3 separate regions of the Homo sapiens genome follow, and all the other regions are linked to region 2. The links come from fine-mapping of genetic effects on gene expression. A gene starts in region 2. Each other region holds a variant in brackets. All regions are shown on one strand. Distances are from middle to middle. Region 1 overlaps KCNH8 (potassium voltage-gated channel subfamily H member 8). Region 2 holds the start of KCNH8 (potassium voltage-gated channel subfamily H member 8). Region 3 overlaps KCNH8 (potassium voltage-gated channel subfamily H member 8).

Region 1 (8,188 bases), 210 kb before region 2:
TTGCTTTATTTTTCTACGTGCAACCTGTCACTATCAAGCATGCCATTTAAATTAATTGTTTTGTTTACTGTTTGTCTCCTATCAGGATGTAAATCATATGAAGGCAAGAACCTGTGTCTATTTGCTTCACTGGCCTATCTCCAGCATCTAGAACAGTACATGGCAAATGATAGGCACTCAGTACGTATTTGCTTAGTTAGTAAATAAATATATTTTTCATAGAGATGTTCATTACGATTTTTATATTTAAGTGGCAAAAAATCAAAATCATCTTAAATGCGTAACAATTAAGATGCGGTTATATAAACTAAATAATCATTATATGATGGAATATTATGCAGATATTAAATATGTTTATAAATATTTATAAAACACAGAGAAATAATTATATTAAAATGTTATGAGAAAAAATATTCCCCAAGTTTGCATAGAATACCAGCACAACTACATTAAAACAAGTAGAGAAAACAACACACAGAAAGATTTAAAATGGAAGCAGACATTGTTTTGGAATGGCTGTAATTGACAGACATTTGTTTTTCTCCACTGCTTCTATTTTAAAGTTTAGATAATTAGCACAGTATATGCACAGAGGAACATTAAATCACAAGAAAATACCTTAAAATGTAATTTGTAGGTTTATCGAGAACATTGTCCTTGAGTATGATTTTGCTTACAGTAAAGAATGGTGGAATTATTTCCAAAAATCTGTAAGTCTGTCTAATAGAAAGTGATGGTGAATAAAGTAATTCTTATAATTAAACATAAGCCTATTACATCTTGCCTAAGGAAACATCCATTGCTATGTTTGAAACAATCAAATGAAAAATAGTCTGCTCTGCAGTTTCATATGGTTAAGGAAAATGTAGTGGTTACACATCCTGGGTATCCGTTCAATAGTTAATTTATGATAGCGTTTCATCTTCCCATAGTGAATTCTGAAAAGCCTAATGAAGCAATACGTGAACTGACAGTTGATTTGTAAAACAAATGCAATTTTAATCTTTGCTTAAGTGCTTAAGTAGGTACTTTAAAGTCACCTAATTTGAGAGCTCTTAATAAGAATGATGAAAACAGTACCTTACTTTTCAATGCACGGTCTTTTCCCACCAAGATATTCTGACATGTAAAATCCCTACATTTTTGAGATAAGACACTTACTACCTTACACCTCACTGGGAATCTGAAGTGGTAGTGTAGTTTTCTGTTTTTTGTATAATTATTGCTATATACGCAGGCTTAGATTTATTCACCAAAAAATAGCTGGCCAGTAACCAAGTCGGCAGTGATTCATTTCTAGTCAAAGATCAATGCTCAATATAATACATTCCATTTAATAAATGTTCCAAATATATTATCTTGGCATACAGACACTGTAAATATTCTCATAGCTGCATTATAAATAGCTTTGTGGGACAAAGGTCAAATCCGAGCCATGAATGCCGTATTGAGTCATTGTTAGTGAGAGACCCTATTACTCAATCCTAGATTAGCGTGAATGGCTAAACAGAATAACTGGAAGGAGTCTCCTCAACACGCTTAAGGCTTTGTGTTGTGGAGGCGTGGGCATGAAGACGTGGGGGTATATGGGTATACGGACCTCCATTGCCACCTTATATCTAAAAGGTGTACTAGGAATAGGTGGGAGAATCTGACTATGTTAGTAGTAGGGGAGGAGGAAAAATGAGATTTAAAGAGGAAGAGAGGAAGGGAGAGAGGGAGCCAAACACTAAGAGACGAATGGATGTTAACTAATCAAAGCTTAACTATGTAGTCAGGGTATACCAGAATGTCCAAGCAATTCAGGGGTAAAATTTAATTTAATTTTCTCCTCATCATAAAACTTCAACTTTATTTATTATTAGATGTCTTTGCCTTCAGTATCCAAGTCAGTATCTTTAATTTTAGCCATTTTACCTAAGGAGGAAATGACATCTTTGCAGTTTTCAGGAAAATGACTATACTATAAATTGGGATTTGCTTATACAATGAAATAACATTAAAAAGTCCATACCCTTTCAGGGCCCACTGATGTTTGTGTATTTACCCTGATAGAAAAAGACATCCAAGAATCCTAGAATTAAAGTACCTTTTTGGGGGCTACTAGTGTAACAAGCATTGATATGAGTAGAGTTCAATGGTACAAGAGCACTACCCCTTAGTTCCATTTAACACGAAACGGAGATTATATAGGTTATGCACAATAAAGAGGAGATTTGGAGAAAAGTTTTTTGAAGCAAGTATGTATTTGTAAATGATACTAAATATTGAACTCAGATCCAGCAAAATTATGAAGCTGTTGTTAAGAGACCTCTTGAATACTCAAGCTGGTGATTAAGCCTTTAGCTAATGACTTGCTTCTAGACTGTGTTACTGGAAGTCCCAGTTGTGCCTTTCAGGCCTCTTCAGAGCTGTTCAGGAAAAAAGGAGGGGGAGCTGAAATGCTGATCAGCTCTTTTCCTTGTTCTTAGAAGTGCTGATGGAAGATTGGAAGAGAGAAGATAACTGGAATGATTACTTCTAATGTTGTTTGACATCATTCAATGCATGTCAGTCCCTAGAGTACTGCAGATAAAGGATGCCTGACAGGTAGATACAAGATGATGGTCTTTAAGAGACCTTCTCTTGGCTTTTCAGAAAGATGCTGAGCCAAGTCTGCATAAGTACCTGAAAAAGCCTCCGCTCCTTTAAGTAGTAAATGAATCCTCAGACACTTGTGTTCCTGAAAGCTTTGAGTTGTGCAATGTTCTGGTGTATCTTAGTCCCAAGATTAGCTGGATTATTAAGTATGTTTCAAAGGATGCTAATTTTCTAAAAACAGTAGATATTAAAACAAACCAAGGAGGCTGGGCACAGTGGCTCATGCCTGTAATCCTGGCACTTTGGGAGGCTAAGGGGGGAGGATCACTTGAGCTCAGGAAACTAGCCTAGGCAAAATGGGGAAACCCCATCTACAAAAAAACAACAAAATTAGCCAGGCGTGATGGCACATGCCTGTAATCCCAGCTACTTGGGAGGCTGAGGTAGGAGCATCACCCTGGGAGATTGAGGCTGCAGTGAGCTGTGATTGTGCCACTGCACTCCAGCCTGCATGACAGAGTGAGACCTTGTCTCAAACAAACAAACAACAAACAAAAACAAAAACAAATACTGAGGAAATACAGGCTTGATGACCTTGAACATGCCACCTCAAGATACGCTGCTTTGTTATATTGATTATTTATAGCTGAAGGTATTTGAGAAACAGCAGGTGCAGGAAAGTTTCCCTGACCCTCTTCTAAATGCAAATCATAAAATTTCCCATGAGACAGGTGCTTT[C/T]CCCATATCAGAAAGAAAAGAACATTCTTATCACTGAAGACTGGGAGTTGAAGCTGAGATGAATCTGGACAAACCAATCTACTAAAACAACTCATCCTCCATTAATTTCCCCCATATATTTCCTAGTCACTGCCCCACAATTTACTTCCCCTGTCTTGTCACATCCTCACAATGTTTAACACATTTTTAAAAAAGCTATTTAAGCTTTGGGGCCTAACAGCTTATTTGGATTTTTATTTTCTTTATGAAGACTCCTGTGTGTATGGAAAAATATTTAATAAAATTTGTATGCTTTTTTGCCCTGTTAGTCTGTCTTACATTAGTTTAATTCTCAGCCACAGAATCTAAGAAGATAGAAGGAAGATTTTCCTCCCCTACATTATCGACAATAATCATCATTATTGATTGAACAGTGAGTGAGCTGATTTCTTGATATAATTACCTCACCAAATTCTCACAATAATGCTACTTCTTTGCCCATTTACAAATGAAACATTCAGGGTTTTAGCTCTAGCTTCGTCAGTAATTAACCAGATCTTGTATCAACTTCTTACTTTCCCTCCCTTTCTCCTTATGTATACAAATATATACCTGCCCTAATTATGTCACTAAAGTTAATACTAAAAATTAAATGATGTTCAGAAATAAAGATTCTGAGATAGAAAAATTTGGGTATTTGTAAGTTAATAGAAGTATTGGTTAATAAAGCATTTTAAGCAAAAGGAGAAAAAATAATTACAAACAATGAAAATGTGTATATATGCTTATAAGAAATGCTGCACCAATGGGAATTCTGCTCATTTGTTTAATTTTTACTCCATTTGCAAATATGTAAATTGGTATTACAAGCACAAATGCTATACCAAATAATAGTAATGCCGATTGGTGAGTTAAAGTCAAACCCATGTGTTTCTAAAGTATCTCCCATGGTTGGTATTGCTCCTCTGAGAATCGGCAAACTAGAACTACTCAAGTGGATGTAGGAAATAACCTCAAAATACAGCATTGAATATAAATGCCAAATATGTATGGAGTATTTTGAGTTATAATGATTGGGAACATTACTGGTGTGTAGTGGGCAAGGACGTGAGATGTTCTGGCCTGGACAGGATAATCTACCCAATGTGATAGCCCTTTACTCCACAAGACTTTCAACTGTTTGGGCAGAAAAATGTGGGATCTCCTTTATTTTAAATAATGAAGAAATACATGAGAGAAAAAAATCCATGATTCTATTGAAAAACCATTAGGAAAACTTAATTTCATGACTTCTTTTTCTTGTTGTTTTTCCCCACTCAAATGTTTCTCCTGTTATTATTTATTTATTTTGATTTCATCACTATCTCACTCCAGGTCTGAGCACAGGAATTGTTAGAATACTACATATAGGGATAAGGGCCAACAAATTTGCCAGAAGACTCAGTTTCCTCATTTTTTCTATTTTCATAGACTGAAATTTGTCTTAGCATGCTATCCTTACCTGAGTTAGCTATTTCCCAATTTCTGTTGTCATATATTAATGTCTGCTTAAATGAATACTCATCATAATACTAGTTCTTATTCTATGTCCACTTGTACCTCTACTCTTTTAATTTGCCTGTACTTCCTCAATGGAATTATTGTAAATCCAAGTTTGTTCATTATAACTAACTGCAAGTATTTATCTCATTATGCATTTTAGTATCCTAACGCTACAGCCCTTATGAATTGAAATACACAAGAAATTATTATAAATGATTTCTTTTATGTTGTCTCTGATATTACAGTATCAGAGATATATAAAATTGTATCAATTTTATTTTTAAGATGACTAGGTAGAGAATAAGAAGGCATTATAAAATATTTGTTATGGAAAAGGCAATGTTGGGTTAGAAAACATTGTCCTAGACCAGGGGTTGGCAAACTTTTTGTTTAAAGGACTGATTGTGAAGATTTTAGGCTCTGTTGGCCACAGTCTCTGTTGCAACCACTCAACTCTGCTGATATAGTGGGAATGCAACAATAAAACATATACAAAAGAATATGAGTAATTGTGTTAACGATAACTTTTATCTATAAAAACAGGGAGAAAGATTTGGCCTCTGACACTTGGTTTGCCAATCCCTGCTCTATATTCTTTTTTCTCTACTGTGTAGTTTTTCATTATATACATCCACCCATCCACCACACTTGATTTATACTCTACTATTCGGTGAATATAGACTTTGTTTCCATTATTTTGCTCCTGCAAACAATAACCCAGCAAACCTTTTGCACATGTCTGCAAGTGATTCTCCACCTAAAAAAGAATAAATGCTGAATCCTAGGGTATGTGCATTTCAAATTTGATTGAGTCTTGCCACATTGTTCTTATTTTCATTTGCTATCTAGGGTATAATTTCTGTCCTTATCTTTATGACCTCCTTTAGGCTTTTGCTCATGCTTTTTAAAAATTCTGGAGTAATCACTTAACTCTTATATGTATGTTTTTTACTCTAATTTTGTTTATTCTCTATTTGGCATTACAGTTATACTGCTCAAAACTCAAAAGTTCACAGAAGGTATCCAGTAAAATCTTCCCTTTTCTGTGCTCAGTACCTTGTGGTTCTCTCTGGAAGCAAAGAAGCTCAGCAATATCTTATTTAAATCTCCAAAGACAACCTAAGCATTGTCAAGTAAATATACACACACATACTCTTTCCCCACCCCTTTTGTATATAAACGTTAGCATACTATATATACACAACTAATCTTGCTTATTTCATTTCACAATATGTCTTGGAAATTATAATAAATGCATAAATTGGCAACATCTAGAGGCAATTTTGATTGTCACAACTGGGCAGTGGGTGCTACTGGCATTTAGTGGGTAGAGATCAGAGATGTTGCTAAACATCTTGCAATATACAGGGCAGCCTCCATAACTAACGATTATCCAGCCCCAAACTTCAGTCGTCCCACGGTTGAGGAATTCTACTTAAACGATATTGTATCAGGTGTCGATCACGTTTTTCAAATCTCCTATAGTCTAAAAATATTGATGTGCTAGTTTATCAGTTTCTGATACTGCGTGTTATTATAGCTATTTTTATTTTCTAAAATAAGTTTCTCTTTCTCTATGTATATACACATGCACACACAACACACATATATATATAAGTACATATATTTATTATGGTTATATCTTCTTAATAGTTTCTTTTATTAACATATAATATTACTTACTAGCCCTATTAGTATCTTCGTCTTAAATTTTATATCTCAGCTATTTATATTCTTGCACCTCTTTTCTTTTGGTTAGTATTTACATAACAGATCTTTTTTCCAATTCCTCTAGTAATTTTGTATTAGATTTAATTCTATAACTGGCATATTTTTGAATTTAAAAAATCCATTGACTATCACTTATTTTAGCATGTGAGTTACTACCCATTAAGTGTTTACATTTGAATATTTGTCATATATCTTGATTTACTGCTGTTATTTTTCATCTTCTAATCCCCATATTTGTCTTCCTCATTTGTTTTTCTCCTTTCCTTTTCCTTGTGGATTAGTAATATTTCATATTTCCTTAGGTTTTTTTTTCTGGTTGTTTTGAAATCACTGGGTCCATTAATATTTTTGTTTTATTTTTGCACAGTTCCTTTAAAAATTTTAATACACACAACTAATTACAAAGTTTTCTAACAATATTTCCTGGGTTCTAATGTATTTACTCTGGACATGTTAAAAGGTGACACACTGCTTTTTAGCCACCTACCATCACCTCCATATGGTCATCACTGTTTAGAATTTTGGTTTCTATGTATTTAAAAAACATAAAACACCTTAATATATTTTCAGTCAATAGTTAATTAAATTTATCAACATGTTTTAGCAGTATCTGTTATAACTTGTTTTTATTTAGTCCATTGAAACAATATTGTTTATTTTCACCCAATGGTTAATCTAATTTGTCAACATATTTTATCAATTTTCATTTCAAATTTTGTTTTATCTTGGATCCACTCCTTCCTTCTGGCTTCACTTTTCTTCCTGCTAAAGAACATATTTTAGTAGTTCTTTCAGTGAGAATCTGTGGGTGGTACAATAGTTTTATTTTTTGTGAAAATATCTTCATTGTGTACCCTTTCCTCAAGAAGAATGAACCAAGAGAAAGAAATGAAAGAAAAAAGAGAAAGAAAAGAAAGGAAGGGAGAGGAAGGAAGGGAGGAGAAAGAGAGAAGAAGGAAAAAAAGAGAGAGAGAAAGAAAGAAAGAATGAAAGAAAGAAAGAGAAGGAAAGAGAAAGAGAAAGAAAAAAGAAGGAAGGAAGGAAGGAAGGAAGAAAAGGAAGGAAGAAAGGAAGGAAGGAAGGCCGGCCAGTATTTTTTTCTAGTAAGCCAGATATTGTTCATTGCCTTTTGGCCTCTACTGTTGCTGAGAAATCTGACTTCAGTCTAATTATTATACCTTGGTAAGTAAATTTTCTCTTTCAGAAGGCTTTGAAGATTTTCTTTTTAATCCTTTATAATCTGCACAGTAACATGTTTAGGTATGGAGTATATGTATTTTTTATCCCATTCAGTTCCTAAAGTGCCCTTTTGGACTCAGGATTTATATATATATATTCCTTCTATTATGAAAGCTTCTCAGCTTTATCCCTTTATTTATATATTCCCCATTACGCTATCCTGTTTTTTCAGATGTCCTGTTAAATAACTCAGTGATTTTTTGACTAAGGTAAATATAAACAAAGCATACTTGCATATCATGTTACTTTTGACACTTAGCTTTCTGAAGAGTTCTTAGAGAGACCAAAGCAATCAGAGATACAACTTTATGGCATAATCTATGACTCTCAGTCTTTGTGGTTATAATAGTAGATAGTAAGAATGTGCAAATCACTTCTT
Region 2 (8,188 bases):
AAGTTATAAAATGTATTATTAACTTCCATTATGTTGCCCTGTGATAATATCTCAACTGATAAATAGTAGGATTATGTTATAGAGTTTTATGTTGTCATATATTTATTTTTCCTGGGAGGATTTTCAGATGATGTCTTACATTGTTTTATTATTCTCCAATAAAATAAATTAATAAGGCTAATAATAATACTGCATGTTGGGTACATTAGCAAGGCAGTTTGCCAGGGTTGTTGTTTGCTCTCTAATTTTTTTTTCATAAAAATTGTCCAAAATAAAATAAGAAACTAGCATGACCGTAAAATATACTTCACAAATAAGGTAAAAATTATACCAACTCAGCATATTACATATTCAGTATAATTAACATTATTCACTTTCCAGCAAAGTTTTTGAGTAGGTGGCAATTTTGTAAATTTAAAATTTGTAAATAGTTTTCTCTTGCAAAAGAAAATAAATGACAGCTATAAAAATCAATAGAAGTAAGGATTATCATAGGAAAATAGTTTCAGAGATAGTAATTACAAAACTGTATCAACAAGAAACAATGGCATAAGAAGATAAAGTAAATAGCTAGCTGGAAAAATGGTATACCCATTATTCTAGATATACCAAAATTTGTGGCTAAAATTTTGTTTAAGGTATTTTAAGTTTCAGATTATTCAAGTCATCCTGCTATTCAAAAAGAAAAAAAAAAGAAAGGAAAAGAAAATGAGAAAAGAAAACCCTCTTTCATTGAGTGGGGGTTTCTTGGGAGGAGAGGTGTTCACTAAATGTTGTAAACAAAACCTTGCCAAAGTCAACCCTTATGTTACTTATCACCTTCAAATTTGCTTCTCTGATTGTCAGATTTCATGCAAACTGGTTCCCTCCAGGAATCCCCCAGATGCTGTGGAGCACAGACCAAGCATGGTCTCCAAAAGACTTTTTGATTTCTTACTATACTAAATACAGGTATGTCAGGATGGTCTTCTTTAAAAATAAGGATTTAAAGTATCTAACCTATCTTATTAACATTAATGTGTAGCCAACATAGAAAAAGAACTATTCACAAGTACATCCATCTCTCCCTACATGCCCTCCTGCTTATCATGCATATCACTATAGTCAGAGTCAGAGGCCAAGATATTTCCACGCTGATGATTTAAAGCCCCTCTCATTAGCAATTGATATCTGAATGTATCACTGCAGTAATTCCCAAGGCTGTGCTGGGATGATTCACTACACATTACACTTCATTCAACTTTAAATGGCAATGAGATAAACAATTACCATTTGCCAATTACCTCATTTTCAATAGACAAATTCAGGATCAATGTTTACAGCCTTTTAGTTTTGGATGTTCAACTTCAAAAAAAAAAACATCCACATTAAACTGATCAGTACCTCAGGTAATGAATAGTAAAATAGTAGTATCCGCCATCATGCATGGTAAAACACAGCAGTGGTGATTTTGTGTGGCGCTTCAGTGGTGTGGTAGTGGCAATGGCAGGGACTTGAAGTTTTCCTATAATATTTATCATTATTATCTAAAAAAGACATACGTAATAACATTACACCTCATACATAACATCTAACACATTTAGAATATAAAAGGGAAAAGAATGGCTAGATGTAAAGATAAAAACACTTATGAAGTGACCAAATATCCACACCAACTACCATGATTAGACTAGATGTCAAAAATAAAAACTGAACAAAATTAAAGTGATTCATTTCTTTCTCATGTAAACTTTTCCAACTATCCCTGAAGCATAAGTCCAAGACTTGCTTCCCACCCAAAGATAAGACTGTGTATTTAGACTACTGGAGTGGAAATGAAATTAGTATTGCTCTCCCATATCAGCTCCAAGAAATATACAGAGTAAAAGCAATGACACTTGAACCACTAAGAAGGACTTTAGGATAAATGAGTTTCTCTGAGTCTCAACAGAAAAATGGAAGACAGTGCACAGAAGCAAGATAAGCTAGAAAGAAGATGAGGATATTCGTAGTGAAACCAACTGAGAGCATTTGTTAGGGGTGGTAGTACAGACTCCTAATTACAGGGTTAAAGCCAGCTAGGAAGATCCACAGGGTCAAGTAGAGAGCTTGAAAAGCCTGAGAAGGAGTGGGGACCTGACCGTGGTCCTGAAAGAGAACAACTTGCAGATGATAACGAACCGTCTGCTAGCAACCACACAACATCCTATCTATTTTTTTTCCTACTGTAGCTTAAATGAGCTAAATGTCCAATAATATTCGTACTCAAAAAAAAAAAACTAAAAACTTTCTCTTATCATCAAATCGTCTTTATTCATGTCCTTCTTCCTGAACAGCCTCTGCTTGAGTGTTAGGCTCATTTAAGGATTAAAAGATACGCTATTCTAGCTCAAAAGCAGGAATCAAGGTTCTGACAAACTCACAACACTTAAAATTCTACAGAAAGCTTACACTTGGCAATCCTGCATTTCTTAAACTCAGATAGAAAATCATACCTATCCGAAATATATCACGGAATGAAGCTCCAAGAAAGAACACTCCAAGCTCTCCTTTTGATCTAGGGAGCCTTGAAACTCTAGAAAGATTAGGTACACCGATATTCCCCTTTTCACCTCAGAAAATTACAACCAATTCCCTAAAGATACACCAAAATGCAGGTCCCACAGTGAATACGGGCGTCGGTCTTTCCTCAGGCTGCGTTTCAGTCCTTAACAAACCCAAGAACTCAAGAGAGCCAACTATTACACCAATACAAAGTGTTAATACTACACCAAACCATGAGGGAACAAATTTCTCCGCACAAAAGATACCTTGGCAAGAACAGAAGAAAATTCACTCCGCTGGTGCAAAAGGGAAGGTGGGAGCAAAAGTAATGTGTACGAGAAAAATCAGTCTCAGAAAATGCCATACCACTCGTTCAAGTGTAAGACTTACGTGTTCCGTCAAAACGGGTGGCGATGGTGTCCAGGAAGGTGTTTTGCGGCGCCAGTAATCCTTTCATAACCGGCATTTTTCCAGCGTGGTGTGAAATTCTCCATCAAAGTTTGTCCAGAAGGATGGTTCGAAAGGAAAGTGCCAAGAAGGGAGAAGGGGAACCTGATGACGGCAGGGAAGGGGGACCCGGCCTGACGGCGGGGCCGAGCAGGGGAAGTGGAAGGATGGAGGGAGAAAGGGAGAGAGTTCCAGCCGCCCCGGCTGTGGCAGGAGGAGCCCCAAGAGCGCTCCCCGAGCCCGCCCCGCACCTCCAGGCTCAGCCCGGCGCAGGCTCCCTCTCCCGCCCCCTCCACCCCCGCCAGCTGCTGAAACCCCCCCACCGTCCCTCCGCGGGCAACAGTGCCCGCCAGGCGCCGCCGCGCGGTGCCTCGCCCCCCACGTCGCCCGCCCGGAAAGAGCCCGCAGTGGCCCGGGGCGCCGCGCCCTGACCGACGTCTCTGGGGTCTGGGAGGGCGGCGCTGAGAGCTGGGAGAGGCGCTGAGCCTCCCGGTCTCCACGGGACGCCGGGAAAGGAGAGCGAGCGCAACTCCCACGCCCCGGGAGCCAGTGAACAAAGACCCCTTTGTTCCCTCTCCGTCCCACTCCCGGGGAGACTGGAGTCCCGTGGGTGTGGTATTGGAGAAAGGGAGGAGACAGGTCGGGGCAGGTATCCGGCCTCAACCTAGAACTTAGGAGGGGGAGGCCCCCCAGTGGTGTCCAAGGGAGCAGAGGCAGCCAGGAGCCCCACGGGGAGGCGGCCCCCTTCCGGAGCACTTGCCATTGCGAGCCCACGCGACAGGGGCAGGGCAGCCCGAGTTAGTTGTGAGGCCCATCCCCAGTCACCAGGGTCTTTTAGTCCGGGAAACTGGCCCCGAGCTCCAAAAAGGGGTGCTTCAGCCCTTCTCCCCAAATTGCCATTGGCCTCCCCAAGCCATCCCAAACTTTAAAAAAATAGCCTTTTGAACGGACAATGGATGGTTTCCCATTCTCCGGTAAAATGTGAATAAAGCATTTCTAGAAAAGTTTGCTATTTTTATTAATTTGCAAAATACCACGTAAGTAAAAACAGTAAGGCTGCCTTCCAAAAATAGCTTCAAACACAAATCCCCTAGCCTGCCCCCCTTTCCCCAGCCCCCACTCCCGAAGACTGACACCTCCAAGAAGAAAGCCTGGCGGACGGCCAGGAACTGAAGGCGTCTCAGAAAACGAAAGTGGTCTCTCCCAGTCCTCCCCCCTGGCCCCCCCCGCGGGGACTCCCTCTCGGCCAACGTTCTGCGGGGAAAGTCGCCCAAGCCTGCGGCACAGCCCTGTGGGGAGTGCAAGGGGACACCCAGAGCCCGAACTTTATAGAAAACTCTGCAAGGGAGGTGGAGTGTGGAAGGGAAGTTGAGAGCCCCAGGGTAGAAAAACAAACGTAAGCCCAGGTGCTAGTGCACCCGGAAGGAAAGGAGGGAAAAAGCAAACAGGTGTCAGAGCCGCGGCGAGGCAGCTCTGATCTCCAGGAACTCGGGCGTGGCGGGAGGAGGGAGGGAGGGCCCACCCCCCGCCCCCTTACTAAGGGGGTTTCTTGTTTCAATTATCTCGGCTGTTGGGGCTTCGGGGGGGACCCCGCGGGTTTCGTCACGTCTGCCTTGGGCTCCGGGAGGGAGGGGGAGAAGAGAGAGAAGCGGCATCCCCCTCTCCCCGCCCCCAGGCCCCCTTTCTCGTGATGCACTTCCTGCGGCCGAGGATTCCCTTTGTGTTGAAATTCGAGAAGATCCGGCAGAGGCTCTAGGCTAGCTGGGCGGGGGCGCGCCGGGGAGGGGACAGGATTCCGGAGTGGGCGGCGCGGGGCGGCCATCCCAGAAGAGAAGCTACCAACGTGGGGTTCCTCGCCCAGCTGCACCCTGCTTCTGCCGCAGGTCCGTCCCTGTCCTCCCCTCAATCCTTGTGTCCCACCCCAGCTTCGCTTTTCGGAAACCGAGCTCACGCGGGTGGAGTCCCCCACGCGGCGAGCCGATCGCAACTGCAGGTGGCTATGTGGCTCAGTCTTGGGCGGAGCTGGGGAGAAAAAGATGAGGGAGTCCCTGTTGTTTGGGTGGCGCATCGTGTCCCAGAAAATTCAGGCTGTTGCTGCCGATGTAAAACGGAGATAAACGCCACCCGTGAATTGGCTCGAAGTTCAGGATGAAATGTATTAGTTGTAAGCTATGACTGTGGTTCATAACAATTTGCACTGTAGGGCCGTGTGTGTAAAAATTGTTTCCTCGTGGTCCTGATCTGTTACCTAATATATGAAATCACTGCAAGAAGCAAGCCACATAGTGGCTTAAAAATGACAACCCAAAAGAAAGCCCCAGTTTCATGGCAAAAGGAGCCTGGCATTTATCATTCACTGTCTCCCCTCCAACACCTATTATGTGTCAGGAACTGTGCTAGGCATGGCAAGATCCCTGCCCTAAATTCAAATTCAAGCCCTGTATTCTACTGAACTGCAGTAGATGGACCTAACTATCTCTTATATCCTTTGCCCACCAAGAAGTGTTTCTTAATGAAGACAGCCATCACCACTCTGGTCTTGAGTTCCAGGCCCTTTTTAAGTTCTAGCCCGAAACCTAATGTTCATCCTAAGGGTTTGTGGCATCAGTGAGGCCAAATTGTGCCATTAGAACATGACCTCCATCCAAGTTTAAGTATATTAAATCCCTTTAAACATGTTTTGCCACCTGGAAAGCAAAGACCGTGAAAGAAGCACCATGGGAGTCTGGAGTTTTCACTATCATCTGCCCCAAATCACCAAATCTCATGTGCTTTCCTTAAGGAAATTTTCCCACTGTCCCCACTTATTGACACAAAAAAACCCAACTCATTTTGTTGCAACTCATTTTATTGACACAAAAAACCCCAACTCATTTTATAGTAGATCACACACTACAGGGATGTGATCTTTCTCTACGGACTAAACGAGACAATGCTACAAGAATACAGGATAACCACACAATAGAGTAAACTTAATGCCCTCATTAAAAATATTGATGTTCATGACAACACATGGACACAGGGAGGGGAACATCACACACCCGGGCCTGTTGGGGGCTGGGGAGCTGGGGGAGGGATAGCATTAGGAGAAATACCTAATGTAAATGACGAGTTGATGGATGCAGCAAACAAACATGGCACATGTATACCAATGTAACAAACCTGCACATTGTGCACATGTACCCTAGAACTTAAAAGTATAACAATAATAATAAAAAATTCATGTTCACAGAAAAGATATTTTTCTTTCACTTTAAAATGTAAAGGAAGGCACAAAATCCCTATAACCAGACCAAGGTACTCTATTATGTACTATAGAAGGCCTCTAGGTAAAACCAACCTAGGCAAAGTTCACTGATACAATAAACTGCCCCAAACCCTACTGACTTAAAATGTCAACAATATTGTATTTTGCTTTCAGATCTCCAATTTTTACAGGGATCAATGGGGCAGGTTATTTCTGAGTACACTTAACCTGGAACTGGAATATACACTTCCAAGATGGTTCACTCAAAGTTATGGAAATTTGGTGCTGGCTTTCAGCTGGGAGCTCAGCCAGTGCTAGGGCCTTGGGGCTTCAGTTATTGGTGTAGATCTCTCCAGGAACTACTTGGGCTTCCTCACAGCATGGTGGTTTCCAGAGTGTCTGAAGAGACAGGAAGTAGGAACTGCCAGTTTCTTAAGGCCTGATCTAGAAACGGCCAGATTGAAAGCAAGCACAGAATCCAGGTTAATCAGAAAGGGGGAAAAGTCCAACCTTTAGATGGAACAAGTATCAAATAAAATGGAGCCATGTTTTAAAATCTTCCTATCAATTTGTTAGTATTTTGAGTTTCAAAGGAAGTTGCCTCATAACAGCATTCCTTAATGTGATTAAAAATCCATTTTTACCTATTCTTTATGTCTCCATAAGCATTTGAGATTTATGGGTACAAGATCTGGGTTCAACTCTATAATTCCTTATAGGGAAAATGTAACACACAAGAGAGAAAATACACATTAAATTCACTTAAGAGTTATAAGCCACAGATAAAGCAATTTTTATTCTTATTTTATTTAAGACTGACTCTCATTAGCATTTGATGTTGTCTTTTCAGACTGACTGGAACTGGAAAAAGCTTCAGGGCTCTCTATATTAGTTTGATGGTTTTAGGTCGGCTTCACGTCTGTTTTCTAATTATAGCATTCATCCAATACCATGACACAAAATAGCTGCAAATGCCTTATTGATGCATATGTATTTGACTGTAGGCACTGAAAATATTCTTAAACTTTTTCTGGCAACAAGAATTTTAGCCTTCGCAAGAAGGCAATATTTTAATTTACAGGCATCTACTCAGATGTATTGAGTTCTAGTTTTGTTTCAACCACTTATCCCCTTTGTCATTTAAAGTTTGTGGGTTTCCATTTCCTTAACTGTAAAACTGGGATAATAATACTTTCCCTACTTACTCCACTGAGTAGAAGAAAATATTTATGAAAGCCTTTGAATCTCATAATATGTGGCATACAATAAAAGGGATGATAATAATCATTGTTCTCTTTTTTATGTTCTAACATATCTAATACAAGTTGTTTATCCACAATAAATATTGTTGACCAACTATGACAGTTTATGGTCCTGTTAGCTCAGAACACATTTATGTATTAATAATTTGTTACAACCTATGACTGGTGAGCTTTTCCTTCTAAATATAAATGACTTTAGAAGCTCAGAAGGAAAATCAAGCAGTTCATTTCTTTGACTAACGCTTTCAAATTGTTGTGCTCTTATATCCAACCAAGCTGGATTCCAGTGGTATGTTCACTGCCTCCTCTTCCCCAGTGTTCACTGCCTCCTGTTCCCCAATGGTCACTGCCTATTTCTCAGTGTATGTAGAAACTAAAATACTCCAGCACAATCTCCAAAGCTATGGTTTCAGTCAGAGTAATCTAGGTTATGCCTCAATAAAAAACATAATATCTCAATGGCTTATTACAATAATGCTATTTCTTGCTCAGTCTACATGTCCCACCTGAGTTGGTAAGAGCCTGCTCATTATTGGGGCCCAGATTGATGGAAGTTCTGCTCAAAAGGTATTTTCTTTGAAGAGAAAAAGATAATCCGGCAAAGCATATACTGTTTTTTCAAACTTCCACTTACAACTTAATGACCAAAATAAGTCATATGGCCATCCTAATTTTAAAGAGGTGGTAAAATACAATCCAACCCTTGCCC
Region 3 (8,188 bases), 200 kb before region 2:
ATTTAGCCCATTTACATTTAAGGTTAATATTGTTATGTGTGAATTTGATCCTGTCATTATGATGTCAGCTGGTTATTTTGCTTGTTAGTTGACGCAGTTTCTTCCCAGCCTCGATGGTCTTTACAATCTGGCATATTTTTGCAGTGGCTGGTACCGGTTGTTCCTTTCCATGTTTAGTGCTTTCTTCAGGAGCTCTTGTAAGGCAGGCCTGGTGGTGACAAAAATCTCTCAGCATTTGCTTGTCTGTAAAGGATTTTATTTCTCCTTCACTTATGAAGCTTAGTTTGGCCGGATATAAAATTCTGGGTTGAAAATTCTTTTCCTTAAGAATGTTGAATATTGGTCCCCACTCTCTTCTGGCTTGTAGAGTTTCTGCCAAGAGATCCGCTGTTAGTCTGATGGGCTTCCCTTTGTGGGTAACCCGACCTTTCTCTCTGGTTGCCTTTAACATTTTTTCCTTCATTTCAACTTTGGTGAATCTGACAATTATGTGTCTTGGAGTTGCTCTTCTTGAGGTGTACGTCTGTGGCATTCTCTGTATTTCCTGAATTTGAATGTTGGCCTGCCTTGCTAGGTTGGGAAAGTTCTCCTGGATAATATCCTGAAGAGCATTTTACAACTTGGTTGCATTCTCCCTGTCACTTTGAGGTACACCAATCAGATGTAGATTTGGTCTTTTCACATAGTCCCATGTTTCTTGGAGGCTTTGTTCATTTCTTTTTAATCTTTTTTCTCTAAATTTCTCTTCTTGCTTCATTTCATTCATCTGATCTTCAGTCACTGATACCCCTTCTTCCACTTGATCGAATTGGCTACTGAAGCTTGTGCATGCGTCATATAGTTCTCATGCCATGGTTTTCAGCTCCATCAGGTCATTTAAGGTCTTCTCTATGCTGTTTATTCTAGTTAGCCATTCATCTAATCTTTTTTCAAGGTTTTTAGCTTCTTTGTGATGGGTTCAAACATCCTCCTTTAGCTTGGAGATGTTTGTTATTACCGATTGTCTGAAGCCGTCTTCTCTCAACTCGTCAAAGTCATTCTCCATCCAGCTTTGTTCCGTTGCTGGCAAGGAGGTGCGTTCCTTTGGAGGAGAAGAGGTGCTCTGATTTTTAGAATTTTCAGCTTTTCTGCTCTGGTTTCTCCCCATCTTTGTGTTTTTATCTACCTTTGGTCTCTGATGATGGTGACGTACAGATGGGGTTTTGGTGTGGATGTCCTTTCTGTTTGTTAGTTTTCCTTCTAACAGTCAGGACCCTCAGCTGCAGGTCTGTTGGAGTTTGCTGGAGGTCCACTCTAGACCCTGTTTGCCTAGGTATCACCAGCGGAGGCTGCAGAACAGCAAATATTGCAGAACAGCAAATGTTGCTGCCTGATCCTTCCTCTGGAAGCTTCGTCTCAGAGGGGCACCCAGCTGCATGAGGTGTCAGTTGGCCCCTACTGGGAAGTATCTCCCAGTTAGGCTACTCAGGGGTCAGGGACCCACTTGAGGAGGCAGTCTTTCCGTTCTCAGATCTCAAACTCCATGCTGGGAGAACCGCTCCTCTCTTCAAAGCTGTCAGACAGGGAAGTTTAAGTCTGCAGTAATTTAATAAATATTAAATGGTATGAACACTACCTTCACATTGTAAAGATACAATATTACAGGCAATATTACAGGCAACTATTTTGTCCCCAGTATTTTAACTTATTTCTCAATGATCACTTTTAGGCCACCTTTTTGAAATATTTTATAGAATAAAGGTTTAGGGAAACAGAGAAATATTAATTTAAGCCATTTTTCTAAATATGCTATAATAAATTGTAGATATGCTTAAACTCATTTAAAAGAAAGAGCAGGCAGATAACAGCAGGAAAGAATAGGAAAGTTTTTACTGCTTATAAAAATAAGTTGGTCAACAAGAGATTTCAGGCAGGAGTCACACTAGAACTGCTTGCAGACCAAAATTTCAAATCCTAAATCTTTGCAGAAAGTAAACACCAAAAAAATTGGAATGGGTTTTCATTCCTTTGCATGTAGCTAGTAAGGGATGGGTATTGCCTACTGGGAGAACCATCTTGCTGCTGAAGCACAGTCGAAATGACAGTAATAAAAAACACAGAAGAATTTAGGGGTTGCTATCAGGGGAGCAAATGAGTCTCCATTGGTTTAGTAGAGAAAAGCAGCCTTAAAACAAATAAACAAAAACTTTTAAAATATCTCCGTCAAAGGTATGAGTTTTTATGGGAGTAAGTCAGTCATCATCTGCTAATGAACATGTGGTAACAGAAGTGGCTTCTAAGGCCAAAGAATGTCAAATATCTAAGAACCAGGAAGAATGGAAAGGAAAGTTCAAGATATAACTTGACCTAATAACAAAGTTGTAAATAACAATAAGATGATGAAGTATTTGTTAAGCAGATACTTACATCTATTATTTCACAAAACCCTATGAAATCACTACTACAAAAAACGAAGGCTTAGCCATGTTGAGTGACTGCCCAAGTTCTTGAGAACTTTGACCAGGGCATGGGGAGTGTTTTTATGATGCTAATTTATGTGTGCATCATGGGTGGGTGGGAGGAGACTTCAAATGTTGGCAAAGTAAAAGGATACAAAACCACAGACACACCCAATCTGTCTACCATTTTCATTTTAAATTCTTGTTCAAACTGGAATGTTATTTTCCATTTAACCATTATTTAATAGATCCCTTTATGGTTACATCTTTCTAATAAAGGATAGCTATATTTTAAAATAAAAAAATTAAAAATAAAATTGCCGTCTGCCTAACTAGACAACATTGCCATCTAGTGGCCTAAACACACTATAGCTACCACTTCTGGGGTGACAGCAGAGGTCCTATCAAGGCTCTGAAGGGTGTGCCCAGTAGACACAATGTTAATAACGATGCCAAGCCATACCAAGAGCACACAAACTCATCCAAAGCAAACGTGCTGACATTCAACCAGAAAACGCACTCTAGCCTCAAAGATTTAACAGCTTCACTGAGAAAAAACCAAAAAAACACACAAAAAAACAACTACTACCACCATTGAACCAAGGTTTTGATGTGCCTCACTTAATTATTTATTTTTCTTTGAAATTTTAAGATCCATTTCTCACTCCTTTGTTCACCTACCTGCTTGAAAATGTTTCCAAACATCCTCTCATCTTTACAGTAAGAATATAGCCCTCTATCACCATGACCAAGGAAAGAAGCAGGTATCAGCTGCTAATGACAGTCAATAACTCAACAGGGAGTCAATCTGTGACTTACAGACCCGGAATCTGTCCTAGAATGAGCAAGCCAGAGCTAGGCTTTGGTCTAAACAAGATGAAGATTTAAGGGACAGGAAAATAGGAAAAGGCTTACAAGATTGGCACAGACGCAGCTTCAACTGAGGTACACAATATTCTAGTGATAAATTATCTTAACAAACATCCTTTGGGGCCTTTTCTTTAATTAAAATCAGATACTCACTGCTTCTCCAGATTTACTGCAAGGCTTATGTAACCCTTTGTTTCTGCAACCAGGTCATTTATTGAAACCATCAACATGCTGAAAGGGCACGGAAGGGCATGGAGAAAGAACACGTCAAGGAGTGGACCACTGTCACAACACCACTGGTGGGTTTTTGTCAAACCCATCTCTGACCCTACCAGTTTAAGATCATGAAGGATGTGAGAGTACAAACAAAACAGCTGTTAAATCTTTTTTAGCCCATTCTGGATGAAATAAGTATAGAAACACAGGAGATCAGTTTAGATCTGTTTGAATAAAGGGACAGGAAAAGTTGGAAGAGGCAATTTTCAGAAATCCAAATACAGTATGTGCTTCTCCAAAATTTGCAACAGAGGCTGAATCAAGCCCATGCAAATGGATCTTAGTTCAAATTCATGTCAGAAAAATCTGGAACACACTTCACTTCTCATATGCAAATATCGTAGGAAAGCAGCTGTTTGTTCTTACCTATAATAAAAAGAATCTCCACTGCAATGTCACTGACGGTTGTGCTCCGAGTTGTGGACAGGTCGTCATTGCCAATAAAGCAAACGTTGTAAGGTACAGTCACAGCAACATAAAACGTTGCCAACAAAATAAGCCAGTCCCAGCCAGCTTTAAAAGTGCTAAAATGCAGAAGTATGAATTTGGACTTTTTTGCATCAGAAACTTTATACTCCGGAAATGCTGGTTTATCTACAAAAACATTCTGTGGATGAAGACAAAAAGGAGAGAAAGGAGAAACACAACATTAGAAACAAGGATTACATAGCTTGAAACACACACTTTTGTGAGTAGGATCATTCACTACACAAAGCAGTATCTTACAAGTGACTTTTAAAAGTTGGTGA[C/T]GCAAAGCATCTAAACATCTAAAACTGAGCAGAGATCTTTGTTATAAGGAACAGGAATATGCAGAGTTTAGTCATGAAGCTAAGTGAGTAACCCAGATTTTGTTCATTAAAAAATAAAAAAGACCATTACCTAAAATGTCATCAAAAAACATTCACAGTTACATGTAATTCTACACACATTATAAACACAAAGCTATATTTACATTCCTATTGTCATGAGAACATTCTGTATACTTGTAGATTTCTGATGACAGTCATTATCTAAAGACTATATTTGACCTGATATTTTACTGATGACAGCAATGGTGCTTTTCTTTCCAAAAAGAATAGATATATGACCAATATTATATTGTAAACAGTTTACATTTCTTTCCAAATATAGCCAAGTCGTGCTAACTACTTTCATTTTTTGCACTGTGGCTGTTGGTGAAGTTGGGAACCCAAATCTCGTTACCTTGACTGACACAGATGCACTCTGACATGGGCCAGACATTATTCAGATGGTAAAGTAAGAAACAGTTGCTTAAGAGTTATTAGTCAAGTCATGGGAGGAGAAAGCCAATGTTCACTGTGCAGCTGATTAAATGCAGAATAGCTGGAGTTTTTGATAACTGCAAAAGCACTTCACTTTGAATGCAGTTCAAATTGATGAACAATTCCCTTGTTGCTAGAAGACAAAGGGAGGCCCAACAATAGCATGTGTGGAAATTTGACAAGCCTGTGACCAGCTACTTGCAGACCTGGCTTTGACCTCAATTAATGGGAAATATAAGATAGGTAATGGAAACTTATATTTGAAAGTTTAGTTGAATTAACAGAGCAGTTATAAATTCCCGAATACATATTACTTGTAGGTCACAATGTTGTGTTCTTGTCTCACTCATTGAGGGAAGGGCAGATTAATGTGATGTGTTCAGGGATCCTGAAGTACCTGAGGATTCAAGAAAGGTTCAGAAAGATCAGGAACATTTAGCTCTAAGTGGTGACTGTCAGTGATTGAATAGTTCTGCTACCTTAATATTAACGCACCCCTGTCTGGCATTTCTCTTTGGTAGGTATTTTCAACCCATGTTTCTACTTCCTGTTAATATTCTCACTCAACCCACACAGGCATCTCATAATGTCAGTACTTCGTGGTGGGTCACTGTTAAACTACTTCCAGATGGTCCTTAAATGCCCATTTGCCACTGCATCTATGTTTCATACAATTCCCTCATATTTGTCCTGTCTCCTTTGTCTCATTCTCTGGTTTCAAGAAACCAGTTCCAAAGGTAGACTTTGGCATAAAACAGAGAAGGGGAGATGAAGTAGCCCCGTTGGGCTTCTCATAAAAATTCGGGCTGTTACATTGGAAGAGGGAATTAAGGTCTATAACCATTAATCTTCTCACCACTGATAAACACTTCAAGTTGTAATAACATGATTGGTTCTAATCCAAATTTTCCCTGAATATTTACTACAATAAAGAATTATCAGAAGCCATGGGAAATATCTCATTTTCTATCCACATAAGTTTTTTCTATCGTATTACAGAAATTAAAATTTTACATTGTTTGAGGGAACATCCATATCTAGGGTAATGATTTGGGAAAACTCAAAAGTGAAGTTTTTGTTTTTGTCTTTGATTATGCTGATTATATGAAGCATTAGTGATTCTGTCACAAAAGTTCAGCAATATATTAGTTTTCTGTACAAATCAGAAAATAAATCTCATGGTTTCATTTTGTAAGCTACTTAGAACATATTTTAAAAATATTTTAAAAAGATACTGAGAATTCAATACATTTGAGATTAGATTTAAATTTTGAAATGTTGTTAACTCAAATCCTGCAAACATCTTTACATAATCACCTGAGTGAAAAAAATAGATGCTTCTCTTCTTCCACCAGCTTTTGTAATGTTTTATCAAAATCCTTTTGAATGAAAAAAATTCTTAAAATTGTAAAAAAAAATGGTACACAATTGTAAAATTATGCTTTTTAGCAGGAAGTAGGGGGAAAGACATGTTATTTATAACTGTCAAACATGGAGTTTGCCTAGTCTAGACGTTAAGTTTATCTTATTTATTAATCTTCAAGCATATTTCTTTAGTACCAATGGTGTTTTAGATGTTTAACCTCCACCTATGAGTTATTGAAACATACTAGTTAACTCCAGTGCCTAATTAAGGTAATTGTTTCCTAAACTATTTTTGCAATAGTTCCTTTGAAACTATCATCTGAATGAGCAAGAGAATGTGAAAATGTTTCTACAGTCACTTCAGTGAGTAATCTAAACCCAGTGTATGCCTTTGCTGATCACCACTGTCCCCGCCAGAAAAATGCATTTGTAGCACTCTCCTTTCAAGTTTTCAAGGCTCTAGTGTGATCTTTAATATTTCTTTGTGTTGAAAACATTTGCATCATATCATTCTCATTTGATTGACAGAATAACAATCAAGGAAGGCAGAATTTGAAAACACCTTTTTCAAGGTATACCAGGCAAAGTTAGAGCCAGACTAAAATATGTTGCATCCTGATTCCCAAACCTGCTAATGACCTGACGAGTTCATTTGACTATGGCTGAAGCATATATTCCTGTTCCACAGAACTGTATCCGAGAAGCAGCAAGGTAAGAGTCAGAAGCACAGTGGCTTTGAATTAGAAGATTAAAGGTTGGGTACCACAACTGCTGCTTCTAATAAGTTGTGTTTTTTTCCATCATTAAAATGGGACTAATAAAAATCAGACCTAGTACTGGCTTGCTATAAGAATCAAATAATATGATGTAAGTAAAAGGAATTTGTAAATAGCAAAGGGCTATAAAATGTTAAGAATTATTTTTTGTGTGTGCAAATGTTATTACAGCCAGAATTTCCAGAAAATTTATTGTTTATTCAATAAACTATACAAGTCATTTCCTCTTCTCCCTTCTGCCTTCCTTCTATCTGCCATTTAGCCATTCTACTATGTTATCCTTGAAAGGAGATGGTGAACACGTGAACAGGGCAAGTCCTGATTCCATACTTTGCTTCAGGAATAAGATATTACCTGTAGTATTAGAGTCACTGGGCTGTTAGGCATCTTAAATTACTATGTATTATTTTAATGCTCTACTCTGATGTTTGTATTTCTTAAATGAATGGCAATTAAGCAAATTAGCTAAGTAGTGGGAGTTATAGTTTTTTTGAAATCAGATTTTTAAGTACTGCTTTGTACTTTGTTGAATCTAAAGGGAAAAATAGCATGCCCAGCAAATGCATTTTAAAGCTCACTAATACTTGCTATGTTTAAATTCTCCACTAAAAGCTAGACAGTGTCAGCTTTCAGCCTTACAGAATCTGTGGATAATATTTGTTTAGGTGCTTTGCTGGTTGATTTGCATGGAATCAAGCCCAGATGCGGTTACCTTTGTTTCTTCTTATAACTTGCTTATGTCACTAAGGCTGACTTGGTAACTGAAAGGGGATGTAAATAGGCACCAGTGGAAGGATCCATAGATCAAGTGGTGTGCACTGTTTCAAGCCTCTCCCTGGACTCCCAGGAAATCAATATAACACTAAGGCACAGGTATCCCTAGAGAAACTTTATATTGAATTAGGACCAAAAAAAAAAAAAATCAAAGCGTGACCACAGTGGTACATGGCACACCAGCACGGACATGGTTGATGGTCCTTGGAGGACAAATGATTCAAAACATCTTGTTTTGGCTTCCAGAAAGTTGCACTGAAGTACAGCCAGGTTTGCAGCACTTTCATGTCAGATCTCGTTCCTCACCCTGGGCTCATACATCTTTCTTTGTTCACTACAATCAGAAATGAATACTTCGTATGTCTGATGAATGGTCCTGTTTTATCAAAGCATGTGTATGTTGGAT

The links. PIP is the estimated chance that this variant, and not a neighbour inherited with it, causes the effect.
Region 1: its variant is fine-mapped to the expression of KCNH8 in whole blood (TOPMed, PIP 0.93).
Region 3: its variant is fine-mapped to the expression of KCNH8 in whole blood (TOPMed, PIP above 0.99).

What each region holds. Positions count from the first base shown.
Region 1 is chr3:19,357,608-19,365,795 of GRCh38, reverse strand. All of the region lies in intron 5 of KCNH8 (potassium voltage-gated channel subfamily H member 8), which reads right to left. Among named protein-coding and RNA genes, the nearest start is that of MIR4791, 47 kb to the right of the region's middle. The variant C/T (reference allele first, on the strand shown) is at 3,319.
Region 2 is chr3:19,143,521-19,151,708 of GRCh38, reverse strand. It overlaps KCNH8 (potassium voltage-gated channel subfamily H member 8), which reads right to left and starts at 3,199. Exons shown (of 16, transcript NM_144633.3): 1 at 2,914-3,199. The coding sequence starts at 2,989. RefSeq lists enhancers at 3,757-4,350, 4,351-4,944 and a silencer at 4,638-4,809.
Region 3 is chr3:19,343,728-19,351,915 of GRCh38, reverse strand. KCNH8 (potassium voltage-gated channel subfamily H member 8) reads right to left here. Exons shown (of 16, transcript NM_144633.3): 5 at 3,951-4,191. Among named protein-coding and RNA genes, the nearest start is that of MIR4791, 33 kb to the right of the region's middle. RefSeq lists a silencer at 2,857-2,906. The variant C/T (reference allele first, on the strand shown) is at 4,334.